Linked DNA regions of Homo sapiens: region 1 is linked to region 2. Evidence: fine-mapped expression QTL. A gene starts in region 2. The other region holds a variant in brackets. All regions are shown on one strand. Distances are from middle to middle.

Evidence for each region. PIP is the estimated chance that this variant, and not a neighbour inherited with it, causes the effect.
Region 1: its variant is the best candidate, but not a certain one, in a credible set for the expression of SLC22A7 in testis (GTEx, PIP 0.82).

Annotation. Positions count from the first base shown.
Region 1 is chr6:43,363,518-43,366,426 of GRCh38, reverse strand. ZNF318 (zinc finger protein 318) reads left to right here. Exons shown (of 10, transcript NM_014345.3): 2 at 987-1,135. It also overlaps the pseudogene RPS2P28. Among named protein-coding and RNA genes, the nearest start is that of ZNF318, 4.7 kb to the left of the region's middle. The variant A/C (reference allele first, on the strand shown) is at 1,260.
Region 2 is chr6:43,296,837-43,299,745 of GRCh38, reverse strand. SLC22A7 (solute carrier family 22 member 7) reads right to left here and starts at 1,486. Exons shown (of 11, transcript NM_153320.2): 1 at 995-1,486; 2 at 649-654; 3 at 253-356; 4 at 1-119. The coding sequence starts at 1,387. It overlaps LOC124901319 (a long non-coding RNA gene), which reads left to right. Exons shown (of 2, transcript XR_007059582.1): 2 at 1-804.

The DNA.
Region 1 (2,909 bases), 67 kb before region 2:
TGTGCAAGCATCTGGAGGAAAAATGTAGTCAGATGATGTCACTATCCTGTGTAAAACCCTCCTATAACTGTTAATTGCACTAAGAATAAAATCCAAATTTCCCAACTGTGCTTTCTGCCTATCTTTTCCTCTTCTGTCACTTTGCTGCAGCCACACCGGCCGCTTTTCTGTTACTTAAAGTATACCAAGCTCTATACTGAGGTGGTTCTTTTCTTTGCCTGAAACATCTTTCTACCTGTTCTTTGCAAAGCTGACACCTCATTCTTCAGGCCTCAGGTTATCACCTGAGAAAAACCTTTTCTAACCATCCTATCTGAAGTAACTCCTTTTATGGTACCATGTTTTAATGACTATAGCACTTACCAGAAGAATTTTTTTTTTCTTTAAACTTGTTTTTGGCTTACCTCCTTCACTAGAAGTATGTACACTAGAAGTAGGGTTCTGAGAGCAGGGACTTTATTCACTTCTCTTTTCCCATGCCCAGTAAGAATGAGAGGTCACCGTTTAGGAGAGTTAGAGGTATGGGCTTATATCTCTAAGAAAATGATAATTTTTAAAAAGTGCTTTATTTTTGGTATAGTGTCTTACCATAACCATTTCTCACCTTGTTGAACCCCAACTTTGCAGGGTTGTCTTTTGTTTTTGAGACAAGGTCCTGCTCATTGCCCAGGCTGAAGTGCTGTGGTGCAGTCATGGCTCACTGCAGCCCTGACCTCCCAAGCTTAAGCTATCCTCCCACCTCAGCCACCTGAGTAGTTGGGACCACACCTGGCTAATTTTAAACTTTTTTTTATAGAGATGGAGTCTGTGTTGCCCAGACTGGTCTCACATTCTTGCCTGGGCCTATACACCTCAGCCTCCCAAAGTGTTGGGTATACAGGCATGAGCCACCATGCCTGGCTAACTTTGTAACTAGGGAGGAGAGTTTTTGGATGTAGGGATGTCTTGACCCTATTGACTAACCATATTATCCTTTACTTTTGTAGAGACGCTCTCCTGGTCTGTGTTCTGACTCTTTGGAAAAGAGCTTAAGGATCACTGTTGGCAATGACCACTTCTGTGTTAGCACACCAGAACGGCGACGGCTTAGTGATCGGCTGGGGTCACCAGTGGATAATCTGGAAGACATGGACAGGTAGGCATCACCTAAGGCAGGGCCTACTATACTAGTACTTGAAGGCAGAAATGTTGCTGTTTTCCGAATGATATATTTGAAAGGATGGTGCCAGCTCTAAAGTTATTTCCTATGCCACATGTCC[A/C]GTACAAAATAAAACGCTGGGATAGAATTTCTAAGTGGGAGGAGTATAATGATGTGTAGACTCTGTTGTTGAATAAATTGTATAGAAAAAAAGACTTTAAAAAGGTCATCTGAGTCTGACTAGAAAGAAGAGGCTGAGGGGACATAATCAGAGTCCCCCAAATGAAGAACAGTTGAGATGGTATAGATTCTAAAACAGTGAAACTATGAGCAGTCCCTTCTCCAAAGAAAAGTTCTGGACAAAATGGGAAGTCTTTTTAAAATGGTGTTATTTTTTAGTTTATCCAGGCTGAAACAGATTCAGAAAGGGTTAGGTAAGTTCATGTCTAATATATGTGTGTATGTGAAGTAGATAAAGTATTAATAGAAAGCTAGAGACCTTCAAAAATGTTTAAGTTCAGTTATTATTTTACAACTATTGAGTGCTGAGGAAGGGTAGATACACTCAAGAGAGTTGGATATAGACCTCAGGTACTAGGAACTTAACCATATATAGATTGTAAATAATCACATTAGGTGTTTTTCACCTCACAAAAGTCAAAGTATGGATGGGAGTTCAGGAAAGCACTCTTTCTCAGAGCTGAGACCATGACTGTTATGGTCTCTGCCCAGCACATTGGGAGTTTTGACAAATGATTAGCAGTAGCAATAAATCAATGTAATGTAATTTCAAACTGAGACTGTCGCTTGCCGTGTTGCACAGAGCATAGCTAGGCGGGTGGGGGAGAGCTGGGCAGGAAGTCTGAGGACCAGTTTTGCCGTTGGTAATACCTAAAAGTTCCATTGGCTGTGGATGCAGTGAAGCAAGGCAGAACAGTCTTTTTTTTTTTTTTTTTTCAGGCTTAATTCACTTTATATTTCTTGTATAAAAACCCTATGTTGTAGCCACAGCTGGAGCCTACGTCCTCTGCACAGAGACTCTGGTGTGTGTCTTGATGAGGTGGTCAGTGAATTCCTGATAGGGAGACTTGGTGAATCCTGTCTCCTTCCAGAGGTCGGGGGTCAGGTAGCTGTAGGTCTTAGAGATGGCATCAAAGGTGGCCTTGGCGAAGTTGCCCAGGGTGGCAGTGCAGCCCCTGGCTGAGGTGTAGCAGTCATCAATACCAGCCATCATGAGCAGCTTCTTGGGCACGGGCTGAGACGATGCCAGTGCCCTTGGGCGCAGGGATGAGGTGCACCAGCACAGAGCCGCAGTAGCCTGTCACCTTGCAAGGAACGGTGTGGGGCTTGTGGATCTTGTTCCCCCAGTAGCCTCTGTGCACAGGGAGAATGGAGAGCTTGGCCAGGATGATGGCCCCGCAGGTGGCAGTGGCCACCTCCTTGGAGCACTTAACACCCAGACCGACGTGGCCATTGTAGTCCCCGATGGCAACAAACGCCTTGAACCTTTTCAACTGGCCAGTGTGGGTCTGCTTCTGCACTGGCATAATCTTCAACACCTCATCCTTGAGAGAGGCCCCCAGGAAAAAGTCAGTGATCTCAGATTCCTTGATGGGCAGGAAGAAGAGGTAGTTCTCCAGGGACTTGATCTTTATGTCCTTAACCAAGCAGCCCAGCTTGGTGACAGGCATCCACTCCTTATCCTTGGCCTTGCCTCCACGAGCTCCGTGGCCTCAGCCCTGTCCACAGCTGCAACCCCAGCCCCTCCATG
Region 2 (2,909 bases):
CTGAGCCAGTAAGGGTGCGGGTGATGGCAAACATTACATAGCTGACGGAGGCTGCAGATGCCAGGCCCAGCACCAGGGTACTCACGTAGGCTACCAGCAGCAGACGCCGCCGCCCAAACCTGCAAAGGGGTCATGCAGGGTCAGTTCCCTGTGGAAGGAGGTTCTAAGGCATAGGTAGACTAGGCTCATACCCCAGCTAGTGGGAGAAAGTTCCCCCAGCCAGTTTCTTATTGGCCCAGTGCCTCACCCCACCTGTCGGACAGATATCCAAAGGCCACAGCCCCCACCAGCACACCGGCGAAGAAGAAAGTGGACGCAGCTCTGTTCAGACCTTTCTGCTCACACACCAGATCCCACTGCAAGGACAGGCAGAAAGGGACCTCCTATGAACATCAGCCCCTCTCCAGCAGGCACCAGCTCCTCCTCTCCAGACCCTGGAGCCTTCTGAGGCGAACTCTGCCATTCTGGTACCTCCATGCCAGATAATAAACCTCCCAACGATTCACGCCAGCTTGGGGAATAGGAAACTTTGTCCCTCCCCAGTCCTGCAGCCTCAGCTTCTTCCCAAGGAAGGCCTCGACCTGCTGCCTCCCAGGGAGACTGCCTCCACCGACATTCCACCTCCAGATGGATTATGTAAATACCGACCTGGGACTGGAAAAGAGGAAGGGAGAAAAGAAGGCCTCTATTGTTTCTCCACCTCTTGCTGCAGAAATTGCCTTCTCAGCTCTTTGTCTCAACTCCCTGAAGCCACTTTAGCCCTTCCCTGCCTTAATCACCTCCCAATTAATGATGATGATAACAGTTCTTGTGTAGGATCCTGTTACTACAAGCCATGAACTAAAAGTGCCTTATATTCATAGCCCCCATCTACAGATTGGTAAACTGAGACTTTAAGAGGTAAAGTAATACATCTAATGCCTACACAGTAACCACCCAAGGCAATGGCAGGCCCATCCCTCTCACATGTCTCTCAACTTCTGGGCTTAAGTACCTCAGTTGCAATGGTAGAGGAGAATTCTGAGTGGTCGTACTCCCAGCCCTGAGAGCAGGGCACTGTGGCAGGTTCATCCTCCAGCTCCCCACGGCTCTGCCTTTCTTCCCCCAACGTGGTGTTGGGGAGAGCCTGGGGATAGGCAAAGCGGAGGCAGGAGCTGAGCGTGCCATCAGGCTCCCGGGGAAGATGGGCCTCCAGCCACACATCCTGATGGCTGAAGTTGGCAGGGGCACCCGGCAGGGCACATCGGTGGGCAGGCACGGCAGCCAGGAAGATGGGCAGGAGGAAGTGCAGTGGTAGCAGCACTCGGGGCAGGGCCAGCAGTGCCACATTCCGCAGTTGGAAGGGCCCAAAGCCGCCCACCTGCTCCAGCAGCTCCTCAAAGCCCATGCTGCTCACCCACCAAATGCTTCAGGTGCAGCCTCCCTCTAGTATCCAGCCAGCTCAAACTGCCCACCACATAGACCCTTGGACTCTGGAGGTGGGAGTGGATGGACTGGAGAGCCTGCAGCCAGAATCCAGCCCTCAGGGGCTGGCCCAGGACTGGGCCCTCCCCAGCCATCAGGTCTCCAGGGACCTCTACCTGTCTTGCCTGGTGCCTGGGGGAAGGGGAAGCCATCCATTCAGAGGTCACTGGCTCGTGGCTCTGGGGCTTACCCATTAGTGTTCAGGGACCAAGGCTACCATGATGAGGTAGCTGGGTGATGGCATAGGAGGTGAGCCCCTAGCCCCTTGGTCAGCAGAGCTCCCAGGATCCCTAAGAAGAGGAGGCCCCTGGGGCCTGGGGCCAGCTCTCCCAGGGTGCCCTTTGTCCTGTGAGACCTTAGGTCAGCCTTGCCTATTTGCAGCTACAGCCATGGCCTGGCCGACAGCCCAGGATTCAGGACTGAAAGCTGGATCCTAACCAGGTTTCTTTCTGCTGAGCCATGAGGCCTCCTCGCATCCCTCTCCCCTGCTGGGAGCTGATGCCCTGGCCTAAGACACACCTGTGATCACACCGGGCAACTTGATGTCTCTGAGGATCCCAGGCTCATCCCATTCCCACTTCACTCAGGGACTCTCCCCATACATATGGTTCCAACTGCCTGTCCCATTCCCCTATTTCCAGCAGCTTCCTAAATTACCTTTTGGAGGGATAGGGAATGGCGGGGGACATGTTGCCAAGGTACCTGCAATGCCTAAGATTACCTTTTGGAGGGGTAGGGAATGGGGGAGGGGGAGTTACCAAGGTCTTGTCAAAGGTACATGCAATACCTAAGACTCAAATGTTCAATCTGACCCTCCCACTCAATTCTCAATCATGGTCCCTGCAGCAAAAGTACAGCAGAAACCAGCAATGTCTGGTTTATTCTCATCTGATTCTCCAAACACTTAGCTGGCAGACCCACTGGTTTAATCCAGCTCCTACTTTGAACAGGTCAGAAAACTAAAGACAGGGAGGGGACCTGCTGGGGTCACACAATGACTCAGCAGCAGAGCTGAAGAAAAGACCAGGTCCCCTGACTCCAGACCAGGAATCTCACTTTTGACCTAAGCTGCTGAGCTGGTGATGTCCCAGTCTGCTCCAGGCTGGGATCCCTGAGAAAGCGCTGGGAAAGGAGCTAAATCGATGGCATGGCGTGTGTTAATGGGGGTGCTGACAGCCATGGAGTGAAGCAAGAGGCAGCTAATGGTGGTGGCAGTGACAGGGGGTGACAATGAGAAGAAATGTTTGAGTCTCTAGTGCATCCTCGCCATTCTAGAGGGTACATAGATGCCTCAGACACGGTCCCTACCCTTAGGGAGCTTACAGGAGGGTTAAAATAAGCTAACCCTCCCTGTCTCCAGTCTCACCCCTTTCAACCCATTCTCCATACACTGGCCACAGTGAACATTTAAACACAAATCTAAGAGGGTCACATCCCTGTTTAAA